Regions from separate parts of the Homo sapiens genome. Here all the other regions are reported to be linked to region 2. Evidence: microRNA targets listed by miRTarBase, many of them from high-throughput screens and not tested one by one. Region 2 holds a microRNA gene; each other region holds the end of a gene's coding sequence.

The links. Region 2 holds the annotated microRNA hsa-miR-6504-5p (UCUGGCUGUGCUGUAAUGCAG, at 4,100-4,120, opposite strand). A microRNA usually pairs through its seed, bases 2 to 8, with sites in the 3' UTR of a target mRNA and lowers its output. Matches are read on the target gene's strand: a 7mer-m8 pairs with bases 2 to 8, a 7mer-A1 pairs with bases 2 to 7 and ends in A, and an 8mer does both.
Region 1: the mRNA of ZNF610 is a reported target of hsa-miR-6504-5p. Seed matches in the 3' UTR shown: 8mer at 4,287-4,294.
Region 3: the mRNA of ZNF24 is a reported target of hsa-miR-6504-5p. The part of its 3' UTR that is shown has no 7-base or 8-base seed match.
Region 4: miRTarBase lists C10orf67 as a target of hsa-miR-6504-5p. The part of its 3' UTR that is shown has no 7-base or 8-base seed match.

What each region holds. Positions count from the first base shown.
Region 1 is chr19:52,363,798-52,371,838 of GRCh38, reverse strand. It overlaps ZNF610 (zinc finger protein 610), which reads right to left. Exons shown (of 6, transcript NM_001161425.2): 6 at 4,061-6,141. The coding sequence ends at 5,072. ZNF880 (zinc finger protein 880) reads right to left here and starts at 1,916. Exons shown (of 4, transcript NM_001145434.2): 1 at 1,862-1,916. The coding sequence starts at 1,873. RefSeq lists enhancers at 1,475-1,614, 1,815-1,924, 1,935-2,234.
Region 2 is chr16:81,607,431-81,615,471 of GRCh38, reverse strand. It overlaps MIR6504 (microRNA 6504), which reads right to left and starts at 4,124; the gene lies at 4,064-4,124. It overlaps CMIP (c-Maf inducing protein), which reads right to left. Exons shown (of 21, transcript NM_198390.3): 2 at 7,780-7,905. RefSeq lists an enhancer at 6,681-6,910.
Region 3 is chr18:35,331,375-35,339,415 of GRCh38, reverse strand. It overlaps ZNF24 (zinc finger protein 24), which reads left to right. Exons shown (of 4, transcript NM_006965.4): 4 at 1,646-7,189. The coding sequence ends at 2,184. Among named protein-coding and RNA genes, the nearest start is that of ZNF24, 9.0 kb to the left of the region's middle.
Region 4 is chr10:23,198,723-23,206,763 of GRCh38, forward strand. C10orf67 (chromosome 10 open reading frame 67) reads right to left here. Exons shown (of 16, transcript NM_001371909.1): 16 at 3,974-5,533. The coding sequence ends at 5,451. Among named protein-coding and RNA genes, the nearest start is that of PTF1A, 10 kb to the left of the region's middle.

The DNA.
Region 1 (8,041 bases), not on the chromosome of region 2:
TAACAACAAAAGCCCATAAAAGAACAATCTGTTCCCATCCTATTGAAGAGACAACTCTTTCTCAGACATTCTAAGAAACTTGCCCCAGGTGTGAAGGCTAAAAATGGCAGAGTAAGCGCCAGATCCCAGGAGTCTGGGCATTAGAATCAAACTTTAAGAATTAGGCCAGGCGTGGTGGCTCATGCCTGCAATCCCAGCACTTTGGGAGGCCAAGGCAGGTGGATCATTTGAGGTCAGGAGTTGAAGACCAGCCTAGCAAACATGGTGAAACCCCATCTCTACCGAAAATAAAAAAATTAGCCAGGCGTACTGGTGGGCACCTGTAATCCCAGCTACTTGGGAGGCCGAGGCAGGACAATCACTTGAACCCGGGAGGCAGAGTTTGCAGTGACCTGAGATGGTGCCACTGCACTCCAGCCTGGGTGACAAAGCGAGACTCCAGCCTGGGTGACAAAGAGAGACTCCATCTCAGAAAAAGAAAAAAAAAAACATCAAACAATAACAGATCAGCATCAAAAGTAAATTGACAGACAATGACCTAACTGAGTATAGTTAAAATAAGTTCCGGGATTAAAATCAAGAAACTGTCGCACATGTATCCCCATAACAGGTTACTATCCTTACAGCCATAGACTCACTATCATAACAGTGTAGAACAATTTTAAGGTCATGAAAATATATAAGATGTAATTTCAACTGTTAAAAGATATAAGACGTATATAAACTGATGATGCGCCTTTGATAAAAACAATAGACTTGCTCATCTGTGCACTCATCCACACACATCACATGTACACACTTATTCATATACATATATACATTCACACACATATACTCTAGTAAACATATATGTGACAACTGAAAGAGTTGTCTGTCAATAACCTCTTTTTTAGATATTTGTCTTTGTTCGTTTTTTAATGTGTCCAGGTTGCAGTGCAGTGGCTTATTCATGGCACACTACAGCCTTGAATTCCTGGCCTCAAATGACACCCTCTCCGAGTAACTCGAATGACAAGCGTGCACCACTGTGCCTGGCTGTCGTTGTTTTTGCAAATGTGCATTTCAGCATGTTTGCAACAATAAAAATGTATAAACTGTGCTCAATTCAGTTTATAAACATTATTTCAAACTATTTCAAAAAGTCAGACCATGTAAAAACATAGAAACGAGAATTCCAATCTCTATTAAATACCCGTACTGAAACATATGTTTCAAAAATTGAGATGGGGGTCTCACTATGTTGTCCAGAGTGGTCTCAAACTCCTGTGCTCAAGGAATTCTCCAGCCTGGGCCTCCGGAGAAGATGGAATTCCAGCCCCGGCCCATAAATATTAGGTTGGTGCAAAAGTGATCGCGGTTTGCCATTACTTTTGCACTAACCTAATTTTGTCCACTAAATATTTATTTAGGTGTTAGCAAAAGCCCAATGGAGGCTGAAACATCACAATCAGCAGTAAACATCAGATCGATTTCCTCTCATTTAAGGCACAGAAAAGGGGGCAGGCCTGTGAAAAGAGGGCGAGGCTTGGGGGACCGGAAAGACGTGGATCCATCTCGCGGGTGAGAACTTTACGCAGCGCGGGCCGTGTCTAGGGGTCACTGAAGGATTTGAAGCAGGCAAACTCCGCGACAGGAGCTGTCTACATGGCCCTGTGGTGAAAGACCGGGGACAGGACCAGCCTCCGAGCGATTTTAACACTCAGGGAAGCGACCGCCAGACTCTCATTAGAACGTCTGAGTTTAGTCGGGGTGGAGGGAGCGATGCGGGGATTTCAAGGTCTGTGTGACCCCTGAGATGCCGGGTACAGAAGCGCGAGGGGACTCAGCATCCCAGATTTAATCTAAACAAAGGGAAACTCACACGCCGCAGCATGACCGTCACTCCACGTAATCTGCTTCCGGGTCTCCAGGAAACTGCGCGCGCAGCTGAGAGGCGAGGCGAGGCCAGGCCCGGGTGGGATTGGGCGGAGCCTGCGCTTCCCTCCGCCTCGCTCCCAGCTCGTCTCGTTTTGGAGGCTAGACCTGCCGTGGAGACTGGAAGAACTCAGCTATCTGGAAATAGATTGTGTCCCGGCAGAGGGAAAGTTTGTTGATGATTAGATCCAGGAAAATTCCTGCTATTAAAATTAATTTTAAATCGGCTGTAGGGGCGCTCGCATGTGGTCCTAGCTACCCGGATGCTGAGGTGGGAGGATCGCTTGAGCCCATGAGGTGGAGGCTGCAGTGAGCCGAGGTCGTGCGCTGCACTCCCGCCTGGGCATGAGAGAGAAACCTTGCGCCTAATAAATACATAATCATAAATAACAAATTGGAAATAAATAATTAAAATAAATAAATATAAATGAATAATAAACACTAGTTTCCGGAATTTTAAAGTCCTTGAATTGTTTATGAAGGGGATGCAAATTAAAATATGAAATGCAAAACCCTGCCAGGGCGGAATGTGCAATTTCCTTTTTTTTTTTTTTTTTTTTTTGGAGACAGAGTTTCGTTCTTTTGCCCAGGCTGGAGTGAAGTGGCGCGATCTCGGCTCACTGCAACCTCCGCCGCCTGGGTTCAAGCGATTCTCCTGCCTCAGTCTCCCGAGTAGCTGGGATTACAGGCGCCCACCACCACACCGGGCTACTTTTTTGTACTTTTAATAGAGACAGGGTTTCTCCATGTTGGCCAGGCTGGTCTTGAACTCCTGACCTCGTGATCCGCCTGCCTTGGCCTCCCAAAATGTTGGGATTACAGGCGTGAGCCACCGCACCCGGCCAAGTTTTTTTTTTTTTTTCATATTTATATTAATCCTAGTGTATACCTGCCATTGTCTTATGGACATACTCAGGTCACAACTTTTTTTTTTTTTTTTTTTTTTTTTTTGAGATGGTCTCCCTCTGTCTTTCAGGCTGAAGTGCAGACAGCTCACTGACTGCAGCCTCGACCTCCTGGCATCAAGTGATCCTCCCATCTCAGCCTCCCAAGTAGCTGGGACTACAGGCACACGCCACAATGCCCAGTCCCATGTCACAAAATTTTGTCTCCAAACAGCACTCATTTATTTGTCCCCTAAAGTTTTCACCAGAGCAAAACAGGGAAGAAATGTATTAAACATAGAATTTGGAGGCAATGTAGGAAAAAAATGTAAAAATATATATACATACAAAAAATATAAAAATATACATGCTAGGTGTGAATTGTAACTAAGTTTCCAGTATGGGTAGTGGGTATCCCCGCCCCAGCCCTACCCTTTAGCAATCATGACACCCCAAGCCAGTCACCTATCCCAGTTCTCTGAAGCCACTTTTGGACCAGCTGGAAAAGTATACCCTGCTTTCCCCCACAGAGCCTCATTATATAATAAACACTCTCAAACCATATCAGTGTATGGGATCATCATTCTCAAGATCCAAGCCAAACCTTAGGGGGACTTCAAACAAGTTCCAGAAGAGTGGTCAAAAATTCAAATTACCAAAAGAGTTGTGAGGGTGACTATATGAAGTTTCTAGTTAATGTACCAAAACAAAATTCCCTTTCTGTGTGTGACTTAAAAAGAAGATGGGTGAACATTAATATTTTCAAATGATGTCACTGAACACTAGAAGTACAAAAAGAAATTGTGTTACAGTATTATTATTATTTTTTTTTTTTTGAGACGGAGCCTTGCTCTGTCACCAGGCTGGAGTGCAGTGGGGTGATCTCAGCTCACTGCAACCTCTGCCTCTTGGGTTCAAGCGATTCTCCTGCCTCAGCCTCCCAAGTAGCTGGGATTACAGGTGCACACCACCAGGCCCAGCTAATTTTTTTTTTTTGTATTTTTAGTAGAGACAAGGTTTCACCATGTTGACCAGGATGGCCTCAATCTCCTGACCTCGTGATCCACCCAATGCAGCCTCCCAAAGTGCTGAGATTACAGGCGTGAGCCACCAGGCCCGGCCATGTTACAGTATTTTTGCCCTCAACCCATACTTTATTTCCTAATATTTGTCATATTACTATATATTTTTGCTGCATGAAAATGAAGGTGCACACCATAGTTCTTATTTGGCACACAAGAAAGAGGCATGTAGAAACACAATACAGGGCATACTCTTTAACACTCACACACATTTGAGGGTGTACAAGGCTGAAATTGTACTATTAAAGTGATTTTGACTTTACCCACATAAACATCCTACACCAGAGTACAGAGAAACTAACTCAAGTACTAAGTGTAATTACTCAACATCATACTTACTTAAGTATATTGCACCCAGAAGCGTATGTTGTTTTATGTCTCACACACATACACACACACACACTTTTCTGGCTGCTTCAACCTTAAAATCATAATGGGTTATTATTCTCTACTATAAAGTATCCTCCTGAGGTAAGATTAAACAACGCTGGTAGAAAGGATGTAATTCATTCACACTAAGAAAAATTTAAACTAGGCCGGGCGCTGTGGCTCACACCTATAATCCCAGCACTTTGGGAGGCCAAGGCCAGTGGATCACTTGAGGTCAGGAGTTTGAAACCGGCCTGGCCAACGGAGGGAAACCCCGTCTCGACTAAAAATACAAAAATTAGCCGGGCAGTAGTGGCACATGCCTGTAATCCCAGCTACTCAGGAGGCTGAGGCAGGAGAATTGCTTGAATCCGGGAGACGGAGGTTGCAGTGAGCCAAGATCATGCCACTGCACTCCAGCCTGGGTAATACAGCGAGACTTCGTCTCAAAAAAAAAAGAAAAAACTAAAAAAAAACTTTAAACTTTATTACTTAAAACATGAGAAGTATGTACATTCTAAATCAAAGAGTTACAAATTACGGTGCCAGCAGTTAAATGTGAATCCTACTCAAGAATATGCTATACTGGTAGTTTTCATTAAATGCTCTATTCTGATATAACTGTTCTCTCTTTATAGATTATTTATATATGTTATTAACTTTACATTTGTAGGGTTTCCTTTCAGTGTGGATCAAGAGATGAGTGATGAGGCTTCAATGCAAACTAAATTCTTTGCCACATTTATGATATTTGTAAGGTTTTTCTCCTGAGTCCTCCAATGTTGTGCTAGGTGTGAATTCTAACTAAAGATTTTGCCACATTCATTCCATCTGTAAGGTACGCAGTGAATTCTCTCCAGCATGAATTTTCCGATGTCGTGAAAGGTGTGGATTTTGATTGAAGACCTTGCCACATGCATTACACTTGTAAGGTCTCTCTCCAGTATGAATTCTCTGATGGTTGGTTAGGTATAATTTGCGCCCAAAGACTTTGTCACATTCATTACATTTGTAAGGTTTCTCTCCAGTATGGATTAGAAGATGGGCCATAAGGCCCGGACGCTTGTGAAATGCTCTTCCACATTCGTTACATTTGTAGGGCTTCTCTGTACTATGAATTATTTGATGCCGTGCAAGGTATGAAAGCAGACTAAAGACCTTGCCACATTCATTACATTTGTAAGGTTTTTCCGCCGTGTGACTTCTCTGATGATTGGTTAGAGAAAATTTGTGCCTGAAGTTCTTGCCACACTCATTACATTTGTAAGGTTTCTCTCCAGTATGGATTACAAGATGGGTAGTAAGTCCCGAACACTCTCTAAAAGCTTTGCCACATTCGTTACATTTGTGAGGCTTCTCTCCAGTATGAATTCTTTGATGTCGTGCAAGGTTTGAATTGCGATTAAACACCTTGTCACATTCACTACATTTGTAAGGCTTCTGTCCAGTATGAATTCTCCAATGTTCTACAAGGTGTGAATTGCGACTGAAGACCTTGCCACATTCAGTACATTTGTAAGGTTTCTCTGCAGTATGGATTACTTGATGGTTAGTAAGGCTTGCACGGACTCTAAAAACTTCACCATCTTCACTACATTCATATTCATAAGATTTTCCTCTAATGTATGCTTTCTCTTCTTGTGGGAGTAATGGGAAATCAATAAGATCATTTCTATATTTATTAAAAATGTGTGTTGTGAAACTAGAAGAAATTTTTTGAAGTGGTGAAACTGAGGAACGATGGTTTGTAAACTTTTCAACTTGATTACTTCTGTAAATTTTCCTTCCGGCTTGAAACAGCTGCAATTCAGACAGATGTGCCTCAAGGGTTAATCCAAGTTGATTTTTAATAGGCTTGTTTTCTGCATTGCTTCCCAATACACAGCTCCTCCCTAGAAAAGAAGAAAGAGTAGAACATGAACCCATGATTCTGGCATGTTTACCGTCTGGTGGAGGGACCAGAATCAGCCTCACCCAACTCAGACACTGGAAGAAGTATCGGCATACTTTGCATGTCACATTGTGAGAGCTGAAAACACAAGGGGGTGACGTGATGCATTGGAGCAGTGGGGAATCTGCAGGACTCGGGAGGATTATGAGTGACTTTGAGAAAGATTAAGGGCAGAAAAATAGAACAGAAACTGAAAGCTTCTCAGAAAAAGCAGGGATGAGCCTCTTAGAGAAAATAAGACATTTAAGAGCAGTTGTATAGACATTAGTAATAGTATAATATACGCATAAAGCTAGGAGAGACACAATCCCAGGAGTGAGGTGTTCCCACACCCTTTACAACAGGCTAATTGGGAAAGGTCTCCCTGTCACACCTGTCACAATTCTTTTTTTTTTTTTTTTGAGACGGAGTCTCTCTCTGTTGCCCCAGGCTGGAGTGCAGTGGCACCACCTCAGCTCACTGCAACCTCCGCAAGCAATTCCCCTGCATCAGCCTCCCAAGTAGCTGGAACTACAGGCGCACGCCACCACGTTCGTCTAATTTTTTTGTATTTTTAGTAGAGACGGGGTTTCACCACGTTGGCCAGACTGGTCTCAAACTCCCAACCTCAGGCAATCTGCCTGCCTTGGTCTCCCAAAGTGTTGAGATTACAGGCGTGAGCCACCGTGCCCAGCCTATCATTAAACATCTTAAAGCAAACTTGCAGGCTAGAAGGCAGTAAGATGATGATATGTTGAAAGTGCTTAAAGAAAAAAAAATACGGCTGGGTGCAGTGGCTCATACCTGTAATCCTACCACTTTGGGAGGCTGAGGTGGATTGATGACCTGAGGTCAGAAGTTCAAGACCAGCCTGGCCAACATGGTGAAACCTCATCTCTGCTAAAAACACAAAAATTAGCTGGCTGTGCTGGCACATGCCTGTAATCCCAGCTACTTGGAAGGCTGAGGCAGGAGAATCACTTGAACCTCACATGGGGGAAGGCGGGGCATGGAGGTTGCAGTGAGCCAAGATCGCGCCACAGCACTCTAGCCTGGGCGACAGAGCGAGACTCCTTCTCAAACAAACAAACAAAAAACCAAGAATACTATATTCAGCAAAACTTGCTTGCAAAAATAAAGGAGAAATTTACACGTTCCTGAATAAAGAAGAGCTGAGGAAGGTAATTAGTACCTTGGAACTGTCTGACAAGAAATGTTAAAGGGAATCCTTCAAAAGGAAATAAAAGGACCCCAGACAGTACTTCTAACCCAAATGAAAATATAAAGTTCTCCATTAAAGGTCAATAAATGATCAAATATGGAAACATAGTATCCTGAGAGTGACACTGTATGAGAAAAAAATTAAAAAAGAAAACAAAAAAATCATGCATTATTGTACTTTTCATTTGTAATTTGGCTTTTCTTTCCTAGCATTTCAAAGGCAAAATTATTTAAAAAGCACTAAAATGTGTTAATGGGAATATTACATATATAGAAGGAACTTCTAGCACAATAACAAATAGCACAGCTATAATGTAATGCTTTCGGTACCTAATCAAGGTTAAGCTGTTGACATTTTAAAATAATGTTTTATTGTTACAATGTTTTATGTAACTTCAATCTTAACCACAAGAGGAAAATCTACAAACATACACCAGAGGAGATGAGAAGGGGATCAAAGCATGTCACAATTAAAAAACCAACAAAATACAAAAGCAGGCAGTAAGGGAAAAATGAAGGACAAAAAAATCTACAAGATGTTACAAAATCTACAGCTAATATGTGACAAGATGGCACTATTAAGGCCTTCTCTATGAGTATGTGAAATACAAATGATTTCCCATTGGAATCAGAACAAAACA
Region 2 (8,041 bases):
TACACATACACCACACACACACCATACAGTTACAAATGTACACACACCACGCACACACACACACACCATACACCACACACACACCATACACACACCATACAGTTACACATGCACACATACCACACACACAAAGACACATACACCACACACACCATACACACACACCAGTTACACATGCACACACACCACACAGCCACATACCACGTAGACACATACACCACACACACAGACACACATACACCATACACACATACACACCATAGTTACACATGCACACACACCACACATACACGTACCACATACACCACACACACATGCACACACATCACACAGACATACATACACACACACCACAGACACATACCATACACACCTCATACACACAAAGACATACCACACAGACACACACCTCACACAGACACACAGATACACATGCACGTACACCATATACACACAGAGACATCACATATAGACACATACACCACACACACACGTCACATATCACACAACACACCACACACATGCACACACCACACACAGAGATACACACTATGCACACCACATATAGACACAGGACACACACACATGCACATACCACACACACATGCACACACAGAGATACATGTGCATACACACCGTATACACATATACATACCACATATAAACACACATATCAGGCACACACATGCACACATACCACACACACCACAGACATAGACACATACACACTCACAGAGACACACATGTGTACGCACACACATGCAGACATACCATACACACACACACACACATAAACCATACAGACATACATACACACACACCACAGTCCCACACGCAGGACTGTGCAGGTAGTTTTGGAATCTACCATGGACCACGGCTTAAGGACCCAGGTCTAACCCAACCTTTCCTCCACTGCCACATTTCCACTGGGGAAACCAATGCATATACCACACACACACCCAGACTTGCTGGGGTCATCATTTGTGTCATTTCCAGGTCTCTTCCCTCCGGGCTCCTGGCAAGCACACAGGCCAATGCAACGAGCTGATGTCATGCTGAAGTGACCCGTGGCCCGCGCGTGGGAGCCCCTGAGAACCCGTGCACCGCTTGGCACACTCCCTTCCCCCACTGGCCCATGGTGGACACACAGCACAAGTTAGAAACAATGCCGTGCCGCTTCCAGCCACCTAGAATGCGTGGTCGCTGGTGACTGTGGCAGCACCTGGCCTGCCCTGCTCTCAGACTGGCTTCCATGCAGCGTGTACTCCCCCACCAGGAACATTCTGCTGTCACCCCCTTCTCTCCGCTGCCCGCTGGACTCCTACTTACACTTCAGGTCCCTCCTGAAATGCCACTTCTCCAGAATGACTGTCTTGATGGTGCCTTCCCCTCCCCATCCCCAACCAAACCAGGCCAGAATGCCTCGCCTAACGCATCACACTGTCCTGGAATCGCCTGTCTAGTTGTCCTTCTTCTGCAGGCTATGGGCTCTGGGAGGTCAGGAACCACGTCTGACTTAGGCACCACTGTGTCCATGAAACCCGGAGAAATGTTTGTTAAGTGAAAGATTGGTTGAAGTGTTGAATGAATGAATGAATTGGATAGATGGAGACATGGATGGATGGAAAAACAGATAAGACAGATGGACAGTCTGATGGATAAATGGATGGGTGGGCGGATAGATGGATGGATGAATGGGGCATTCATATACCCATTCTGCTCAGCGAAGAAAGTCCACACACAACAGACCTTCAAAAGAACTCTTCAGCTCTGATTCCCTCTCTTCCCCAAACTGTATTTGACTAAGACTCTAAAAATGATCATGGCAGTGTTTTCTTGAACACCTACTAAGTACCAGGCACAGTGCTAAGTATTTTACATGTAATATCTACGAGCCTCACAATATGCAAGGAGACAAGTATTAGAGTGCGTTTCACAGATAAATTAAATGAGCCCCAGAGAGGTTCTTCCTGCTGTTTAGGGTTCCACAGCTAGAATGTGGTAAAACCTAGGGTTCCATGGCTAGTTAGAGTCTAAGGATCCAGAGCTAGTGCCCAGGGAAGTTGGGCAGGAACTCAGGTCTGTCTGACCCCACAGTCTTCCCTCCCTGCAATCCAGCCCTGGAACATGAAGCAATGCATCTGAGCTCCTCTGGATTCCCAGGACTTGGGTTGGGACATCCGTGAGCATTATTTCTCCATGGTAGCTGCCCTACTGATGAAGCAGGAGGAGGAAGGATGTGGCACGCAGGAGACCTCACCTTGAAACTAAGGGAAGCGCCAGAACTTGCCTCTAGGAGAGCAGGTGGAGGCTGATGGAGCCAAAAAGGTTGGGACAAGGCCGGACTGTAAACTGCTCGTTCCTTTGGCTTGTCTACTTTTGAAGGAGGACATACGCTGCTAGGCAATGTCTTGAGTCCCAGCACAGGCATCTCTAAGGGGCTTCCAAGCAAAGGGAAAGCTGACCAGGCTGCGTTCCAGCTGGGGGAAGGGTCACGCTTCTGTGCAGAGTCCCCATACTGTCCTGCTGGTGGCTGAGCCAAGAGAACTCAGCCCAGTGGGAACATAAGGCATGGCTGGAACCCCGAGGGTCACTCTGAGGAGAATCCATTCAGACCTGGGAAAGGTCCCCCAGCCCAACCCTGAGGGTCACTCAGAGGAGAATCCATTCAGACATGGGAGAGGTCCCCAGCCAGACCCCAAGTCCCCCGGAAGCCTGCGGGCAGCTGGTTCCAGGCTTCCGACTTCTGGTGTTAAATCTTTGGAATGCTGAAAGGGCCTGGTTCCAGGCAAACGCTGCCCAATTTCCTCTCCCAAACTTGCCAAGTTCTTTCTCATTGTTGCATTGTCTTGAGAGGTGAGAAAAACAGCCCAGGGTGCGCTGTGAGCGACCTTTTCCAAGCTCCCCTTCCCCGGCCCAGTTTCTTAGGGAAAAGGAGCTTCCTTTCTTACTGGAAGCTAGAGAGTGAGACCTTTCTGGTGCTTTCCAGACCGGAAAAGTCCTGCTTGCTACCTTCCAGTAAGAAAGGAACCCACCCCGTCCCTGCCCTGCTGCCAATGTTTGGGGTAAACAGTTGCCCCGCCTCCTGCAGGACTTTCCAGAACATTGGTGAGAAGAGCCGAGTCCCGGAACCCATCCCCGAAAGAAGCAGACACTCTTGGGAGGAGGGTCTCCCTGCTCTTATCTTGCCTGAAGCCTTGTTTGTGGAGCAGCGGCTCTGTCTAATTTTTGCTGATGGGCAGCCACTCAATTTTTAGGCAGAATCCCCCAGAAGATGATCTGCGCCGCGCTGCTCTTTAATGCCTGCTACCCCATCCCAGGGGCCAGTGACAGCACCTTCAGGACGTTTTCATGACACTGTCTATGTACTTACATGCTTGGCCTCCCCACAATGAAATGCTAGCAGAAAGGGCATCAATGGAGGAAATGGGATAAACAGGCCCTTTCTGCAACGAGGGATTCTAATAACATGGCAGTGAGGGAGCTCACGCTGAAAACACAAAGCATCCAAAACACACCAACTGGACCCACGCTGGAAGGCTGGGCGCCTCTGTCTGCCAACTCAACCTGCTGGTAGATTGCTCTGTCTCTGAGCTGGGGATGAGGGGCATGGGCCTGAATGTCCTCTCTGCCTTCCTTGAAGGATCAGGTCAGCTCCCCGAGGTCTGCAAGAGGCATTGATTCAAATTCTAACAAAGTAAGAGTTTTACAAAGAGCTCCTTAGAAGACAGAGAGAGCGGAGGAGGAGGAAGAGAAGAGGGGAGAGACACACAGAGAGGACTGGGGGACAGGCTCAGAGGTGGTGAGAGGCCTGGAGGAAGGACCTGCAAGAGAAGCCCAGAGTGAGCCACAGCAAGGACTAAAGAGAGAGAAAGAGGAGAGGCAGGAGGGGACAGAAGGGGAAGGAGGGGAGAGAGATGGAGAAAAGGCATGAGAGAGAGGAAAACAGACACACATGGATGCAAAGAACCTGAAAGAGACAGAGATGGAGAGAGATCAGGCAGGCTGGGGTAGGGAAGGGGCACTAGCCCTCTTTGGGCCCCGCCATTCCCCTTGTCTGTAGAGAGAATGGCTGTGCTGTAATGCAGCAGGGTGCAGACTGCATTACAGCACAGCCAGACTGCAAGATCGAAGAGCCCCCTGTGATCTGACGTGATTCGCCCCAGGAGGGGCTCAGGTGCCTGCAGTATGAGGTCAAAATGAAAAGGCCTCGAGGTCAGCACTGCTCCACAGAACTTCGTGTGTCAATGGAAATGTTCTTTATGTGCGCTGTCCAACACAGCAGCCTTTGGCCATGTGTGGCCCCTGGCCACTGGAGGTGTAGCTAACGGGACTGAGGAACTGTGTTATTAATTTGATGAGTAAATTAAATCCATCTGTGGGCTGCCATGCGTGGCTGCTGGTGGCTGTGCCGGGCGGCACCATTTAAGGCACTTTCACTCATCTGCTGACTAGGAGCACTAAGGTAATGCCGTTCAGATGGGCACCTGGCTGTTTCTTGGTCCCCTCTCCCACCCTGGAGCAGGGAAGATCTGTCCCCAGGGCCAAAGGGGTTGTTCTCTGTGACACCACGGCTCTGGGATCTAATACAGTATGTTGTATGTGAATCAAGACAAAGTACAGCCTCTCAAAGCAGAGGGTCCTGCCACCCGTCACAAAAGGCACGTGAATACAACCAGGACTGAAGAAAGCCCTGAGTACCACACCAGGGGCCAAGTGCACCCCGCCCCAGCCTCCCTAGAACCACACAGACTCGCTAGCCCTGTTTATAGAATGAGCCAGCTACATACCACCCATGCATCACGGTGGGCAGAGTGTGGGGGTGAGGATGAGAGGGAAGCAAGGGAGAAGCCGATCCAGGTCTACCTCCCCTGACGGAAATGGCAGCCAGGGAGAGAACCACAGCCGCCAGGGGCAGGGGCTGCACCCACCTGGGTTCCCCTTGGGGGAAGGGTTGGGAGGCCGTGTCTGCTGCTCCCTCATTAGCTCGGAGTCCGGCTCTGGATCTGAGGAGTTGCAAGCCGCCTCCTCCTCCTCCTTTTCCTCTGCTTCCTCCTCTCCTGCTCCTGCCTCTGACTGCGCTGTCCACGGGATCAGGGGGCAGTGAGCAAGTGGGATGCTGGAGCAGCTAGAGGCTCCCCGCCCGCTCGGCTCCTCAGCACCACGGCGGCAGCTCTGTCCTGAAGCCCTGCCAGACACGGCGGCCAGGCGAGTCATCACAGCTGGGCCCGCGGCCACAGCCGGGTTAAAGGGACATTCCAGGCACTGCTTCTCTGCTTTTCAGCCTCACTGCCCCTCCATCCCTGTGGCGAGTGATGCTCTGGCCTCCTTTGGAGGCCAGGGCTGCCCCTCCAGCCCCAGAAGGAATGAGGCCCCTTTGCTGGTGGAGCAGGAAAGTGGAGGCTCAGGGCCTCCTCTCCTCCAACTGGAATGTTTCAAGGGGCTCCCTCCTGCCTCTCTGTCATGCACAGATCTAGGCCCCTCTGCCCTGCCACCACACTGATTCCTCTAGTGTCCCTCTACCCCTTCAGAGCTTTCAGTGGCTGCCTATTGCCTTTGGAAGAGGGTCTGAGGCTTCTTCACTTGGCTGGCAAGGCCTGGGTGATCTGGCCATCGCCCAACAGATCTAGACATATCCACAGCCCCAAACTCCATCTCTCCATCTCCTCCAGCTGCAGCAAGTACCCAGGTCCCCCATATTCAGGCTTTGCACACACATCCCCTCTGCCCGGGGAGTGTGCCCCCACCCCACCATTCTGGCACACTTCTACTCATCCCTCTACACCCAGTTCAAATGCCCCCTGTCTGGGGAGCCTGCTTTGGCCCCCCAGGCCAAATAAGTTCCTCCTTCTCTGGGCTCCCAGTCCTCCACGGTTGCCTCTAATTTAGCCATTATTTCCGTAATCATTTGTTTATGGCTCTGTCTCCCCAGGGGCTGAGGGGCTCTTCACGCATGGGGCCTCCCCGAGCACAGGGGAGAGGCTGCCTCAAAGCTCTGTGACTACAGCAAAGTCATTGGGGTAGGACAATCTCTGGCTACCCTACCTCTCCGTTGGCCACTGAACCCTGTGATTGCCCGCCCCATCTCCCCCGCCGAGGGGGGCTGGCACTGACCACCCCCTTCATGGACTCTGTGCTGCAGCCATCGGATGGGCAAGAAGGAGCGAGTGAAGAGGCAGAGGAGCTGGCAGAAGTGTCTGGCAGGAGGGTGACACTGACCTCTATCATAAAGATGAGAGGAGAGAAAGAAAGAAGAGGAAGGCTTTGCTGGCTGTGGTGGGGAGGGGGGGAGGGACAGTGTGGGGGTGTGGGGACAGGGTTAAAAGAAAAGCGTAGAGGGCAGAGTGTGAGAGATTCACTAAGAAGAAAGCAGACTGGGGCAGGCGTGGTTTCCAGAGTCCTCTGAGAGATGACAGTAAGAAACAGGACATTTCTAACAATGCTAAGTTGTTACGCTCCGCTACTGAGCTCAGCATTCCTTGGAGCCCAGACTGGGTGACTCTCAGCCCAATGCTGTTACACAATCCAGTGGCTGCTAGATCTAAAATAGGTTTTTAGAAAGCATCTCTTTGGGCTAAGAGAAGGTTTCCCTGGAAAAACAAGTTAGGAATAAAATGATCCCAAAAGAAAAAGCAAGGCAGGTCTTCTTCCCACTGATAAGAGAGTAAATTTTCTCTAGATGAGGGGTTTCAGACTCGGGGTTCCTTCTGAAAATTGGCTGGCTCCCCTGACATGATGTAACATGTCTTATGTATGTGTGACCGTGGTCGTGGTTTTTGTCAGTCACTTCTCCATTCTTGGTGGACGCACCTCACCGCCTCTGTGTGGTCCTGGTGGGGCTACCAATCCGAGACCTGGGCCTTGCCTGAGGTCAAGGGTGGGCGGGTAATCCGGGGGAGTGAATTCCTGGGGGCTGAATGGGAACACGGCAGAGCCAATCAGGATCTTCCATGAGATTTTGTAAAAGGTACTGGAAAGAAAAAGGGCGCTCACTCTTAAGGATTACAGCCTCTAAGGATGTGGCTTTGGGCTGCAGGTGGGTCATCTTTCCTACCACATGGTGAGATTCTGCCAATGAAGCCAGCACACAGAAGCACAGCCAGGAGATGGAGAGAGAGATGCCCAATATTAATGATGTCATCTGACCCCCGGATCCAGCAATGCCTGAAGTCCCCTCTAAGGCTTCCCAGTTACTTTAATAGTTAATTTAATAGTTAACAGCATTAAACTCTCTTTTTGTCTCACTAGTTGGAATAATGTTTGTGCCATTTCCAACCAAACGTCCTGACCAGTACATACAGAATGCACTTTTTTTCCCAAAAAGATAGCTTATACTTCTATCAGCCTCAAAAGACTTAGATCAACAAGATATCAGAAACTCCCTCACTCAAAGTAATGCAAAAAGTCAGTATCTATTGCTCATCTGCTTTTCACGGCCTTCTTGGGCCTAACAACTCACCTGTGTGCCTCAGTTTCCTCATCTGTAAAATGGGGATCATAAAACTTATTTATCAGGTTTATTAAGGGAAACTAAATGAGCAACCTGAAAAGTTCCTAGACTGCAGCAGGTGTGCAGGAGACGCTCAGGCCATGCACAGTCCTTTTCGTTTTCTCCAGTCAGACCTGGTTTACAGCTTTCTTATACTTGGGGAATAAAATCACCCAAAGTTAAACAACCTTTCCTCTTGATAGCTGCTGGCTCCCTCCAAGGGAAACGAGGGGCACAAGTGCATGAAGATGAGGGAGAAGAAACTGCTTGTTCATGTTTATTTCTCCTACCTGCAGTAAGACAGTTCCCCCAGGAATCGTGAGCTGTAAACAGTACTTCGGGGCATTCTCCCAGGACAGCAGCTGAACGTCTTCAATTGCGCTGTAGGAGACTGAGTTTTCCATGTACCCAGTTGGCTGCAGCAAAAAAAGAAAAAGAAGAGATATGCATTGGTTACAGTAGCAGGCATGACGTCCGCATCTCAGACGGTTTTGGAAACATCGCCCCTCTGGCGACAGGCAAATGGAGCTGGTGCAGGAGCTCAGCACCTCT
Region 3 (8,041 bases), not on the chromosome of region 2:
CTTTCTAAATATTTATTTCTGATTTCCTTCAACGTCTACCTAGAGTCATTTTCTTCTAAGAAGCTTCTTTTGTAGAAATATTTGGAGTAATTTTTTTCCTTTTTCTAAGTATTTATGCAAAAAAAGCCTCCTTAGCTATAACATGCTTTAAATGCAGAAAAATCTTTTTTAAAAGCTCAAAGTTGTATTAATTCACGAGACCAGTCTTTCCCAATATATTAGCCATTAACACCATATACTTATGTGTATCCTTTGATATGGCCCAGTATATTCCTAAAACTGCTAGATTGCTTTCTCATGTTTATGTGAACTAAAATGAAATTTTGTTTGACTCTGCTTTAGTAATCATTCCTTGAAGTAGTTGGAGATGGTGCTGGTATGCCACTGAATGAGGTCTGAGCAGGTTTTCTTCACATCTGAGGGGACAGTGCCAGCCAGTCAACTTTTGGGGTGGGGCTGAAGTCTGCTGAAAATCTGCAGTTTTACATGTTTCATGGGACATTCTTCTGTGCAATAAAGTTTGAGAAGTATCATTCTTGATATATGGGGCTGATATTTTCAACTTCTCATCATCTGAATTTTAGAGTGACTTTTCACCTGCGTTCCTTATTTCAGCTGTCTAGTCTCTTCCACACTTGGGAATTTCTGTTTCCTGTGTGCCGTTTGTCTCCACTTAATCTTCACGCTCCTCTGTTTTTCAAGTCTCCAAGCCTCACTATCCTCCTCTAACCTTTCAGTCTCTCTCTCTTAGCCTTATCTCCTGACTTGATCTTTTTGTTAATTATTTACTGTTTTCCTCTTCGCTGAAGGCAGTTGCTAACCCTATATGAACTGGATCTTTACTCCTTAAGGCATGAAGTTTTAGAAAAGTCTTAAATGACACTTGCTGTTATCTCTGCCTGCGTGTGAGTGATGCTAACCCATGTTGGTAATTCAGGCTTTTCTTTCATTGGACACGTTTCACTGAGGCTTAGAAATAACGATTTTTCTAAGTACCATGACAAATACCACATGGGAGAAGCTGCTTTTATTGGAAAACTTTCATTTATTAGGGGCATACTGAATTTTTATGTCATGTCTTTGGTTAACACAGGAGGCCCCCAGCTTATCTTCAGCCCCTTCTTGTCAAGACTCCTGTGTTCTGCTTTTAGGCTAACATTGGCTGTGACCTGACTTGGCTTGTTCATTTCAGAAATAGCCACTTTCTGACATGTTTTTCTAATTTACATCTTTGTATTTTGATGTAATTTCTCCCTTTCTCAAAGTAAAAGAACATTATAATGATTTCCTAGTGGCCAATTTTATTTTATTTTTATTCTTACAAAGTTTCATCCATACCTAGCCACATCATTTTGACTATCTCCCTAACCATCTTAGAATCTACCATCTTTCTGACCTTTGTTTTCTGACTACCATTTGTAAACCACTTGCCTATGTTTTATTCAGATATCCCTTATATCATGATGTTATACTGTTATTCAGAGTAATTTCATTTTTTCTTTTTTGAGAATAGGCCTTAACACCAGTGTCAGAGTGGTTTATAGATGTGTGCTAGCTATTTTAGTTCATTAAAAAAAAAATTTTTTTTAGGTTTCTTTTCCCTTAATAGATAATGAATGATATTTACATTTTCTGTTTATTTCAGATGATGATGGTAGGACTGAAAATGGAGCACTAGCTCCAAAGCAGGAGCTTCCTTCAGCATTAGAATCCCATGAAGTTCCTGGCACTCTCAATATGGGTGTTCCTCAAATTTTTAAATATGGAGAAACCTGTTTCCCCAAGGGCAGGTTTGAAAGAAAGAGAAATCCCTCTCGAAAGAAACAACATATATGTGATGAATGTGGAAAACACTTCAGTCAGGGCTCAGCCCTTATTCTTCATCAAAGAATTCACAGTGGGGAGAAACCTTATGGATGTGTTGAGTGTGGGAAAGCATTCAGCCGAAGTTCCATTCTTGTGCAACACCAGAGAGTCCACACTGGAGAAAAACCTTACAAATGTCTTGAATGTGGGAAAGCCTTTAGCCAGAATTCGGGGCTTATTAATCATCAGAGAATCCATACTGGGGAGAAACCTTATGAATGCGTTCAGTGTGGGAAATCGTATAGTCAAAGCTCAAATCTTTTTAGACATCAGAGAAGACACAATGCAGAAAAACTTCTGAATGTTGTGAAAGTTTAAGAAATTGAAAAAAAAAAAAGAATCAGCACTCAGGTCTTTTTCTTCAGAAATGAAGACAAAATTTAAAATATGAAATGATGCAGAATAGTTTTTTCCCTATTGACTGTCAGAAAATCCACTGGGAAATGTAAAAATCTTCACTCACCATTATGATATTTATCTTGAAAGAAATGGTGTCATACCTGCCTAGAAACTGAAATTTTAAACTTAATTCAGGTCTTAATGCCTAAATTTTCCATGTGATGTTTATAGTCTGTATTACTTCTCCAAATAATGAACTACCTGATTCATTGTCCCTTTCTTGAAAGTTTCTTTTTTAAGACAAATACATTATTTCTGCATTGATCATTGAAATGTTCTTTATATGGATACATTCCCTTATATATTAAAAGGCAACAGGAATTACAAAGTCTGAAAACCATTTTAAACCATCTTTTAAAAATTTACCCTTATTTCCTTTTACCTAATTTGAATATGCATTTGAGAAAATAAGAGGATAAAGGATGGCTAAGAGCCTCAAAATGAACCATAAGATCTCAGATAAGAAGTGATGGTGATAAAACATCAAAAAGTGAATGGAACACCTTGATTGGGGAAGATATGCAAATACTTTGATCTAAGAATTGAAATGTATCAAGAATTTATATTTTGCCTGCAGGAAAATTCAAAAGCTACTCATCCTCTCTATAATTTGGAGTCATCTTACTAATGAAAATAATGTTTTCCCATATATTATTAAAAAGCATACAGTCTAAATAATAAACAGTTGTAAAATAATGAAGGTAGAAATTATAACACTAGGGAAAAATTTGTAGCGGATGGCAGTGTTGAAGGCAAATGTAAACATAAGGGTAATGGTCTGTCATGGCTTTTAGAAAAAGATGATAGAGTTCATCATTATTTTGCCTTCATCTTTGTTAAGGACAGAAAATTCCCTGACAGGTGGGCAAGTATCAGGTTACCTATTTTTTATTCCTTTGGTACAAAAGGGTTGAACGTCAGGCTAAAAAAGCAGCCATGCATTTATTATTAAACATTTTCTACCGACAAGGCACTGTGCTAGGTACTGTAATCCTACCATAAGTAGGTAGGTATTTCTTCCACTGTAAATCATAGGGGTTTGCTGTTTTATGTGAGTTAGCCTCTTCCCCTTGTCTGAGCATTCCTCAGGGGAGGTCACCTGTGAGGTTCCCAGAACTGTAGTTTTTTTTACCAGGGTGTTGTATTTGGAGGGGGAGGAGGACTCGGCTCAAAAGAGCTAGCTGGCTCTCCAGTGTTCAGAGGTGAGTCCACGATACTCTTACCACAATTTGGAAGTTTGTGAATCTTTTTAAAGAACTAATCAATCTCTAATAGCATTGAGGTTGTACCTACATATTAAGTTGAATGGACTGTTCTATTTAAAAAATAAACAACTAGACAATTAACTAGTTTATTAACCTATCACAATTGAATTTTTTTTTAATTTTCAGTCTTAACACATTTTTTAAAATGTATTAAAGTAATACATTGTAGTAGTAGGATTATATACTCCTTGGCTGAGAATTCCAAGTACTGTGGTTCTACTGTTTAGTGGAAAACTCTGGAAGTTAAAATATAGAATATGAGAGGAGGCTTTTTTATAATGGGCATCATTGTGTGGAAAATGACCCATGTGAATACAAATATTTCCTAGTTCAGAGATTTTGGTTATATCTGGTGCTTGGATCAAGTTTAAAAATGGAAGGTGAGATTTTGCATGAGCCTATTAAAAAGCATAGTAATAAATGCAAGGCCAGCTGGTGGAAAAGTGAGGCAGAATGGAGCTTGTTTATAGGTTTTCTGATAACAATTATAAAAAATGTGCTTTATAGATTAAGATTTATTGAAGTATAAATATGTAGTAATGATATAATGTATTTTAAGTTATACAAGAAAATGTAGGGACTTTTGTTTGGGTCTTTTTCTCTTTGTGGCTGAGGGGAAACAAGTCAGTGTCCAATAAAGCTGTAAACTCCTCTGCTCTAAGATAAATGATGTGATTTATTTATTTATAACTGGCTTCTTTCCAAGTAGGTTTTCAGGTGGCATATTTGGAAGACGGCTGGAATGACAGAATTCTTGTATCAGAGTAGGTAAGAAGGGAGCAACCTCTCAATGGCTATTATGTCATGCTTTTTAAGATCGTATGCGGTTCCTATATACAAGGAAGCTTCCCTGTGGTAGATTTGTCATAAATGCCAAAGATATTTGGTAATGTGAGTGTAGAAAAAGTAGTATGAGGGTTGGCAAATACTGTTTTTGTCTTGGCAGCTCTAATATCTGCATTGTTCAGAAAGGATTCTGAGGCTAAGGCAAAGCTCTGTGGGAAAAAGGGACTGGACCAAAAAAAACTGGATGGTGGCACACAAGAAGAGGAAATGATGAGATGTGTACTTTCTATCTCTGGTTAGGCTTAGTCCCCACTAGACAAATTGATTTTAAATACTATGTAGTGATTTTTAAATTCCATCCACACATTCATTACCCACACAGATAATCATAGAAATTTGGGGGAGTGCCTAGCTTCTGATGAAGTGGTGATATGGCAGTGCCAAGCAGTGGCATCGCCAGAGTATCTGTTTGGTTAGCAAATGAGCAGTCATTTTAGGTCATGCAGATTGCTGATATCTGCCCAGTAGCCACTGAGCATTTGCTGGTTTTTTCTTCTGGCTTTCTTGGAGGTTAAGCTCTCTGTAGTCATACCCAGTTGGTACTTGATCTTTAGCAATATGTCTCATATTCATGTAAATTGAAGGGAGGGTTACATGTACTGAAATAATCTGCATGCTAGGCATTGGCTTAGACACCGTACCTATCTCACTTAGATTTGTGGACTAGGAAAGCAAGATTCAGAGATCATGTGACTTGCATGTGGCCTAGAGATAAAATTCAAATCTGGTTCTGTAGACTCCAGGGACATATTCACCATGCCATGGGTGGTGGCTATTAAACCTTGATAAATTTGTGTTTATGGTTAACAAATGTGAAAGCTATTAAACATTGCTGGTTTGAATTTTTTACAGTGCAGAAATGTAAAATGAAAAAGGATATTTCCTTTCACAGTGTTACCGAGAAGTCATGATAATTTCGTTTGTTCTTCCAGATTTAGGCATATACTTATTTAATCAATAATGTGTTAACAGCTGACACCTGTGGTTGCTGTGACAGGCACTATTTGAAGTGCTTTATCATGGATTAACTCTTAATCCTCAGCTACCGTATAAAGTAGGACATAACCCCATTTCACATGCACTACACTGAGACTTGCCTCCTCTCCCCCCACATTGAAGATGTTCTTTTTTCATAACTATATACTATTCCATTGCATGAATATTCTGTAATTTATTTAATCCCCTATGGATTGATAATTAGGTTCATTATAGATAGAAGTGTAATTAACATTCCTGTACATGTATTTTGCTACTTGTGTGGGTATTTCTGTAGGATGAATAACTAGAAATTTATTGGATCAGGTTTCACATTTGCAGTTTTGAAAACTACTACCAAAAAGATTTCACCAATTTACAACTCCATCATTAGTAAGAATGCCTGTTTGCCTATAGTCTGCCAACCCTGAATCCTTAAAAATTTTTGCCAATCTGGTAGGCAAAATTTCTTTCTTTTCTTTGAATATTAATGAGGAGGAACATCTTTTCATGTTTCTTGGCCATTTGCATTTCCTATTATGAATTGCTTTTGCCCATTTTCCTTTTTTTAATTATGAAAGTCTAATGACTACCTTCTCATTGTATAAAAAACACAGTTCTTTGAATAGAGAGACCCTTTTCTCCAATGCTACCAATCACATTCCACTTACCACAGTTTAACATACATCCTCTAGTCACCTTTCCGTACGAATATACATACACATAAAAACACTTTTTACATAAATAGGATCTCATATTCTGTAGCTTTTTAAAATTTTGGTCTCAAAAAAAGATAACAGGTCTTTAAATTTCTTTAATGGTTGAATATGATTAAATACTATGAAAATGCCATTATTTATTCCCTTAATTTTTTTCCTCTCGCTATTACATTGCCAAAGTAAACATCCTATTCAGATGTCTTTGTGCATGTGTGTGAATATTTCTTTAGTCTGGAGTCCAGTAAGGTGGATTTTTGGATCAAAGGGTTTGTTCTCTGTCCACCTTCAGTCTTCCCAAAGGCCTTCATAACTGTATTTTCACCAAGTGTATGGAGAATGTTCATTTCCCCATATAACCATACCTACACTTGATAGTTTTTATCTGTTGGGCGAAAAAGAACCTTTTCTTATTTTGCATTTCCCTGATTATAAAAAAAAATGGTGAGATTGGGGTTATTTTCATGTTTATTGGCCATTTATAGTTTACTGTGGATTGTTTGTATCCCTTACCTGCTTTCTATTGGGTTATGTGTGGATATATTGTTTTTATTTGTTCAGCATCTCCTTCCCCATCTTCTGGTAACACAACCTTTATTTATTTGTGGGGAACCTATTCCCTGTGGCTTAGGTGAGCATGTGACCAGGCCTGGCCTCCTGAGTCCCACAGCTTCCTAGCCACAGTGATAAAAGAATGGGTATATAACTTAAGCCAGGCTAAGGAAAGCCCTTAACAGAACTTCTGCTGGAACTACTGGAAAGAAGGCTTTATGGAGATCCCAGGAACCAAGGACCATGTAAGCCTGAATTTGTGCCATGTGGAGAGAGTCTGTCTGAGGAGAAACTCGGATGCTAGCAGAAATGGAAAGAGAACTAAGTTCTGATGTCATTTTTCTGGAGGCCCTAGATCCAGCTGTGCCTAAAGCCTGCCCTACCTCCGGACTTTAAAGTTTTGTGAGCCAATAAAGTCCCTTTCTTGTTTAAGATAATTGAATTGAGTTTCTGTTCTGATTAATATAGGTTATTTGTATTTTCTTATTGATTTGTAGAAAACCTTTGTAATTTTAAATTCTAGACTTTATGCACTATATAAGTTAATAAAATTAGCATGGCCTTCCATGATTTGGCCTGTGTCAACTTTTGCCATTTGTTACTCCATTCTCCCTATAACACACACCCCACACACATACACTTTACATTCCAATAGTAACAACATTGATGTTGGGAATGTGGATGAACAGCTTTTTACACAATTGCCTCTTTGGCAGTTCTCTTCTTATTCTTCCTCTAGACTCATTAACCTGGGACTTTAAGGGTTACACTGCTGAGAGCTGTACCCATCTCCTACCATTGTTCTTGGGGGATTCCCCTCAAGCATTCCCTGTATACAACCCTTGGAGCCCTTCCAATGACCTCCATCCCAACTCCATGGTTCTCTGGCTCTTTGTTTCATTCTCAGGCCTGTGGACTCAAGACGTGAATGAGCACACACAGACCTGAGCAGCCTCACCCTGTGGGCTCTTTTCTATGGCCAGAAATGTAGCAGCGCTCTATGTCACCTGGCACCTCTATTAATCACATCTCCTAAGATGGAGTTTTCAAAGAGATGTCTTTCAAAATTGAGGAAAACATTTTGCAAGCTTTTATTCAACACATTTAAATGCCTACTCTGGGTCAGGCACTGTTATGGGATTTACATCTGTTGCTTGCGTGTGTGAAAAACTACACGTGGCAGTGGAAAACCAAAAGTAAATGAGAAACAGTTTTTTAAGAAAGCATATTGTATGTCATATGATGAGAAGTGGTTAGGGAGAAAATAGGAAAGGGATACAAAATGTCAAGAAGGAAAGATAGTGCAATTTAGATAGGCTGGCCAGGGAAGGTTTTCACTGAGAAAGTGACATTGGAGAAAAGATAGTATAAGGAAGCAAGCCATGAGACTGGAGAGTGTTCCAGGCATGAAAACACCAACTG
Region 4 (8,041 bases), not on the chromosome of region 2:
TGAATGATTTGCCTGATTTTTGCCAAGCTCAAGGGCTCTTCTCTTGGACTTTTAAGCAGATAGAAAATATTGTCATTTCTTTTAATTCACAGCATTACTTTCAAGCCGAACAAAGGCCAGGGCCGGGGGGAGGCGGGGGAAGGGCTCGGCTGTAATGAAGCGCCTCTAAGGCGGAGGTGCTGCCGTGGAGGCTGAGGCGGCGGCGGAGCGCGCTGCTGCGTTTGTGCGCAAGTGACTCTCCTGTGCCACACACAAAAGGCCTCCCTCTTCCCACCTTCTGCCGCCTTTCAGCCCTCCGGCTCCTGCCGAGCCCGCTCCTGGGACTCTGGGGGGGATCCTGGCTGCATCCCCAGGGCAGCCTGACCTTTGGGACATCCGCCGCTGCCAGGGCAAACCTCGCCAAACTTTCCCCAAACTCCGCAGGCCGGGGAGGGACCCTGGCCGGAGGCGCGCATGCGCCCCGCCCGCTGCTCCGCGTTCCCAGGGTTCCGGAGAGCCGGGGTGGAGTCGGACGAGTGTCCCCGGAGGCCCGCCTAGCCCTTGCTCCCAGGGGCATTCGGGACTCCTGTGCTGCCTGTCTTCGCTTGAGGCTGGAAGTGGCTGCCCGACGCCTTGCTCTCCGCAGTTCTGCTATCTTTGCGCATGGAAGTCTCCAAGAGGGGCTCCAGGAAGCAGCGAGCAGGGAGGGGAGCGAACGGCCAAAAGGAGATCCGGGGATGGGACCCCAGGCTTCTTCGGAGGAGGCCCGGGGCAACTACGCCCCGCGGCCGGGAGGGAAGCCCTCGGGCGGCCGCCTGTAGAGGGCCCCGTGGCCCGGGGCGCAGGTTGTGGCGAGCTGGTTTTTGCCTCTGGGCCGAGGCGCCAGCGCTAGCAGCGACAGCAGCGGGGGGCGCAGGTTTCTAGCCAGTCCCCACTTTCGGACCTCTGGGGGTCTGCCCTTGCTTCTCGGGGAGTCTTGGCCCTTGACTGATCCCCGCAACTTAAGGCCAATCCCATCCCTAGCTGGCCGGCACCTGTTCCAAACAACCTGTTGCGCTGACATCGCTTTGGAGAGGCGCCGGCGCTTTGCTGGTGGAGGCGGGTTGTGTGGAGGCCCCAAGCCTTCAGGAAATAGTTTAGGGTTCCGTTGTGGTGAGAGGCACCCCCTCCCCGCTTCCTGTGGCATGTGGGGTGTTTCACCTCTGCCTGTGTCCCAGGAACCCAAGGCGTCCTGGGCACCTCTGCACCTCGCCCACTCTAGGGACTTCTCATGTAGAGCTCGGCAGTTTGGGTGGATTAGACAAAGATGAGGATTAGAGACACACCGCCGGCTAATTAAATGGGCTCTTCTCCTCTCCTCGTCCCCTCCCCGCAACCCGCAGCCAGATAGGACTCTTCGGTTCCCTACCCCCACTCCTAGGCCCTATGTAAGTGCGGATGGAGAAAGCTAGTTACATTAGCCCTTCTGTCTTAGAGGTACCGGCACCTCGGGGCATTCTCGCTCTTAAAGATGCGTTTTCTGAATTATTTCTAGTTTTACAATTTCTCTTCGGTGACTGCACAGGATCCCTTCTAGCTCTTTTCCTGTTGGAGTCGCTGGACGTCTCCCAAACAGCTAGTTAGTCGCCTATCTCTGGAGCGCAGGCCTTCGGAATTGGATTCAGGGTATGAGTCTAGCTAGGGGATGTTTCTAGAAGTTTTATAAAATCCATTTGGGCAAGCGTTGGCATTCGGATTTTAAAAATATAGACGTGCACTGGCATTGGGCAACTCAAAAAAAAATGTGTCTCCTGGCGCTTGTCAGTGACATGCTAATTACAAATTTTAAAACAAGCCACTTCTAAGCGAAGGACGCCTGGCTGCAACCCCACAACTCACACCGGTGCATATAATAAAATATTAGGGTTCAACAGTTGGCATATGTGGCAATAGCAAATGTGACACCTCGAAGCGATTATCTGGAAGTTTTTCCGTACTTTTGAAAATACACTTGCCGCCTCATTTCTCTGATGGCCGCTCAATAGACACTGGGAGATGGTAGCTGGGCCACCCCTCCCAAGAGTTCTTCTTGCGTGCAGCGCTTTCATCCAGGGCTTGAATTGTGTTGTCAAAGTTTAGCAGACAAGAGGAGGGGGCATGAGAACGGGAGGGTGTCTTGAAAAGTCTTGGAAATCGGTGTATTTTGCAGGTGTAGAAGTGCCTAATAACCATGGCTAGTGCGCGCTCCCCAATGGCGAGGGTATGACAGGGACAGCTGGCTCAGTTTTCAGTGTGAAAACACCCCCTCGGTGGACCAAACACAACGACACTGACCTTTCTTCGGGGGGAACCAGGGATGTGCCTTTGACTGAATTAGCCATAAAGACGTCTTGCTATGACTTTTGTTCCCCACGAAAGCAAAGAAATATTGCGTTTAATATGAGAAGTACTGTTCACAGCTTTTCCGTGCCCCTTAAGAAATATTACAGTGCTGATTTACTGGCCTTCTTCTACCGAGTTGGCCCCAAGGGCGGCTGGGGGTGGTGGGGTGGGGACGGGGCAGTGAGGACAGAGGAGGAGGCGGAGTCAGAGAGCTAAAGTGCCTGTTGCCTGTTTCCAAAGTTCTCTCTTTGCAACAGCAAATTTATCAATCTTTTCATCTGACAATACTTTGAAATATATCATTGTCATCTAGAGTTGTTTGATAGATTATCTGCAGGCACACAGCCTTTTTCAAGGTCAAGTTGAAGATTCTTGTTTGCTGTTTAACTGGGTTGTTTCAAAACTCAGAACAATGCCTGCCTGTTAAATTTTCACTTGTTCTCATGGGGCATTCGAAAGCAAGTTTTCCTATTGACCAGGTCTCTGGACATTTCATCCTCTTGAGCTAAATTCAGCAAACAAGGCTTAGGAATGAAATCAACAGAAGAAGAAATGAGATTTAACTTAGCATTTGCAAATGCCAGAGAGATTAAGTCGTCTTTCATATCTGCTCAAAGTGTGTACTAATTTTTGTCTGCATGTTGCAGGCTGGTTATGGCCAAACACATCTCAACTTTGACTTTATTCCAGTGGGAAGCAGTGAACACACTCCCCTAAACCAGAAAGGCAAAGAAATTGTGGCCACTCTTGTTTTTGCCAGTGCATAACCTGTTGTTCTAAAGGCATTTTAAAATAAAGTCAGCTACTTCTAAGTCACTATGTTTTATAGACATATTTATTTCTATTTTTTAGTGGAAAGACTGGCTTCACAGTTTTCTCTATATCTGCGATGATTGATTTTTTTTATTCAACTAACTTTTATTTACCTTGCAATAATGTTCTGGACCAATGTGATAAATTACAGATATGCAAATTTCTTTCAATGGTGTTGTAAGTGTGTCTAGCTGGAGCTGAATAACTCCTTGCAAGTCAGTCTGTGCGTGCTCAGGACCCCAGGGAGCTGATCAAAGCACCCATTCTCTTTCATCCCCGGTATTCTCCTCCAAACTATTTCGATACAATATGTTTCCATGATGCACTTAATGTGCTAGGGACATAGAACTCATTACAACCTAGCTAGTTCTGCGGACCTCTTTGTTCCGCGGCAGAAAGTCAAAGAAAAAAGGAAAAGCGCTGCCAGTTGCCAGCTTTCTGAAATGCTAAAGCATGCGTCATTTTTCACCAGGTCTCGTCTTGATATCCTCAAAAGACAAACTATGAAACCGGCCTCAGCCCTTTCTGGCATTAATTACACTGCTGTCCAGCCGATCTGTTTTTCCTATTATATGCATTTCTCAGCAGGGATTTTTTTTTTTTTTTTGTAAGACTAATGCAGCTGCAAGTTAAACTATGAATGCATTTTCATCACTATGGGAAAAAAATAAGTAAAAAAGTAAAAAGGCTGCAAAACATACAGCAAAACTTTTGAAGGACTTCTGATGGACAACAGATATAGGGCAGGACCTGGGTGGTTTGCAATTTCTCCCAACCTGAAATTGGCTGAGAGCCTCAGAAATTTCCAATACATCCAGGGTTCTGTGGAGACCTTTATTGTGCCATTTGAAACTTTGCTTTGGTACCCAGATAAATCTTGAAGGTTCAAGTTTCTATTAAAGTTCTGAAATGAAGCAGTTTGATATCACACCCAACCAGGAGGCTGCTTCCAAGGAATTTCTGTCCAGGACGATGGCACAGAGAATACAAATTTTATTTCATTTCCTCTGTTTCTTGTAGGGTTGATTGGTTGGTGGAAATGGCTGGCAGCCAGTTCTGGGAAAGATTCCAGACCTGACTCCGATTAACCCTCTCTGGTGAAACTCTGCTGGAAACCAACTCACCAGCAATTGCCATTAATCTACTTACTAATTAAGCCAATTCATTTCTAAAGGAGAAAAATTCCTTTCTTTAGCCAAACTGATGGGAGGAAATTTGAAAGAAGCGCCAAACTGTGTAACTGTAATTCAGCCAAGGACTGCTAAAACAAGGTGTTGATATATAGCAGCAGATTTAAAACAAGTTTCTAGGGCAACACTCCTTTGGAGACAGCGGCATATAGTGCATAGTAGATGAAGCTCGAATAACGCTCCACAGCGCTATACCATCCCATGTACTTGCGTTGAAAAGAACACGTCTCTCTCCAATTAAATCTTGTTCCTTTTACGCACAAATAAATCACCTCTGCAGCTTTCTTTTGAACTAAAGTATATCAGCTTTATGTGACAACTACCACAAATATATTTCCTGAGACTTAATAAATAACTGTAGAATTCTGTAATCCAGAGCCTACGATTCAGATACAGGCTCTTAACAAGGCCTTACTTGTAGTTAGGGGAATAGAAAGAACCAAGTTGGACATTACGCATGGAAGAAAAGCAAACCCGCCTTTTGGTAAACGGTGTCTGGCATTCCAGCAGAATCTTGGTTTGCATCCTTACCAGGAAGCAAAACTCCAAAGAGTTTCCCTACTTACTAAAGAATTTCTGACAGCCTTTAAGATGCGGCTAGGTGCCCTGTGCCGGGGTAAGATAAGAATGAATCTTGCTTGAGGAAATGTACGATCTCCCTGTAGTCTTCATGACCTACCTTCATGGGGACTAGTTATTGGGTGAGGAGACAGCAAAACAGGTTGATGCTTTTGGTATAGAAAGACTGGATTAGAGAGGGAGTCAAACTTTTTAATTAAAGTCCGTCCCTTCCCACTCTTAGACGCCTGGGCTCTTCTGAGTCCCCGGAGCTCCTGAATGGATGTGGTTGCCCCGGAGGTTCAGTGCGCCCCGCTCACCCAGCACCAGCCAGGGCTTTCCTTAAAGGCGTGGAAAGGAGCGCGCACAAGGCGCGCATTGAGGTCTATTCGAGCGCAGTGCTGGTTAATATACATAATCTGGAGAGATTAAACAATTAGTTTAGAAAATCCTTGGAGATAGTATCCTTTCCGAGGGAGGCACCTTACACCAGGACGGCGAGGCCACTCTTTCTGAGGCCCCGTCTGCGCAGCCCAGGCTTCTGCTGGGTTAATCAACAGTCTCTGCGGGGCTGCTCTGGCGCATGGAGGGCTCCTCCAAGGACTCTTCTTTTGGGGATTCCGACAACTTCCCTAAACGTGAAGAAAGGTGGACAGACATAAACTTTGTTTTACTTATCATACACAGACCACTTCCCACTCTTCCCCCAAAGCATTTTGCGTCATTTTTTTTAGTGGGTCTTCCCAGCCCTGGCCCTAGCTGAGAGCCTCTTCAGGAACCTGGAAGAGAGACGGTGAAGGAGGTAGGGCAGGCAGGCAGATTATCCTTGGCCTTCCAGACAGCGTGTGCCAGCCAAGCTTTGCTCTGAGACAGTCTGGGGCTCTCCGGCAGCCCCAGGCTGCAGGAATGGTCTCAGGTGCCCCTGATAAAGGCCAGTACTCAACATTCTACTTGAAGCCGTTGTAGCAGAATAAAAAAAGTGGGAAGAGTTGTCTGTGTTTGGGCCCAGGGATTTGATTTTTCCAAGTTTTAAATTTCCATTTGCCTTGCAATGGAAATAGACGGGGCCTGTGAAATAGAAAATTATGAATGAGAAGGAAAGGAAACCACATTGGCCCTGGGCTCTGAAACTGGGGAATGGGAAGATGTCCCCACCCCCTAACCTCAACGTTGGGCTCTCTGCCCTGTGGGGAGGAACATTTACCTGGTGCGTAAATTGTGAGGAAAGCGTTGGGGGTCTGAGACAGGAAAGCCACAACATGGGATGTGATGTTCCAGCTTTGAAGGGGAACAAAGGCCCTGGGCTAATCCCAGTGAAAGCCGGGAGCGTGGAGAAGGCAACAAAGCATTGCAGCCTGCGGTCACCGGTAGGTGTCAATGTGGACACTTATAGCCGGGGCAGTGGGAGAGGGGAACACAGAGGAGCCAGGCTGTCATTCCAAGGCTTAACATGAACAAAGATAAAAACGTGACAACCTCGGCTTTCAATGGTTGGGAGGTTCAAAGTGGAGTGCTCCAGAGCCTATCTGGGTCAAGTCTTTTCTGCAGAAGGGCCTTTCTTTTTCTAGTCAAGTATCAACCAGGAAAGCCCCAAGGGCCTTTTCCCAAGGTAACTTTTCTTACTCAAAGCTTTCTTTAAAGTAATGTCCAATGCTACACACTGCCATAAAGATACAGAGCTTGTGAGATGCCTGGAAATAGCATAAAGGGCATTGTTTTCTGCATCCCAGAAACTCCAGGAGGCTGCATTCAGCCCTTATGAACTTGAACAGGCTACCTAAACTTTCTGGATAAGCTTCGTGTATTCTTTTGCACATTTAATGAAAAGAAATGAAATTTCTTTTTATAAAACTATGCATACATGTAGATGAGTCAATGGGTTCCATAATTTAGAAAAGTACTCATCTTACAAAGAAGTTCTGGTAGTACAATGTTGAAGGAATAGTGGAAACTTGCTAGAGTTAAGTATACTGGAGATTTTAGTCTATTAGAAATCAGCAGACGAGGAATTTACCAACAAATAAATGTCCTGAACAATCTGGGAAAGATAATTAAGAATCTTCTACTAATACAACCCATTAACAAAGATTATCTTAGAAAATCAATAAATGGACATGATAAATTATGTTTATATGAATAACTCAGAAACATTGCTTTTTAAAAAATTTTAACACTAAAACCAAAATACAACTCAAAAAATCATAAGGTAATAAAATTCTTATTTTCTTTAGTTGAAGTAAGTCTCCTAAATAATAAAAAAAGGATGTAAATATCCTTAAAAGACTAATGACATTTCACAGGTAATGCAATTTAGAAAGAAACACTTCCATGTTTTCTTTTCTAACAATGTGCATTTTTGTAAACTGCTATAAATTGCAATTCAAAAGCACTGATCTCGCCATCCCCAATCATTTTTTATACTGATCAAATGAATGCAGATACTCCCATTTGGGAGGGGCAACATGACATTTCACTTGGCAGTTCTAAACAGGTCACAGACCTTTCACAGACCCTAAGGCAGTGGGAGGGAGCTCTTTACTAAACCGTGTAACCAAATCAAACCAATGGTTACCCCTTTTCAAAACCAATGGAATGGTTTGCACAATGCTATTCACATAGCAGTACAGAAACTGAAAGGATGGTCATCCAATGGAAATTTCTTTCCTTTTGTTTAAACTTGCAGAGCTCAAAAAGTAATACTTGAGGGAAAACAATTACATGTGCTGTGATAAAAATAATAAAAAATACACATGCATTTTTGTTGGCACCACAGGGCTCAGCTGTAACTGTCCATTTGTATGTATATATATGCACATGTATATATGTATATGCATGTATATTTATTGAAGATGTTGCTTTGTTTGAAATCTTCGGCACAAAGACACAACAATGCTGCCCTGGAGATGACCTATTGCTTTCAAGTTGCTTGAACACATCAGAATTTCCATTGTTAGGGTTGATTAATTGAAACTGATAAGTTACCATGAATAAAGATTGTTTTTCTGTTTAATGTGGTGGGCCTGATTTGGTAAATGCCTCATTCATGTAGCTTTGCAGTGCAGCATATGGGTAAAAGTCATTCAGTATCACAAACATATACAATTTATTATGCTTGTATGGGCACAGCCAAAGCCCTTTCT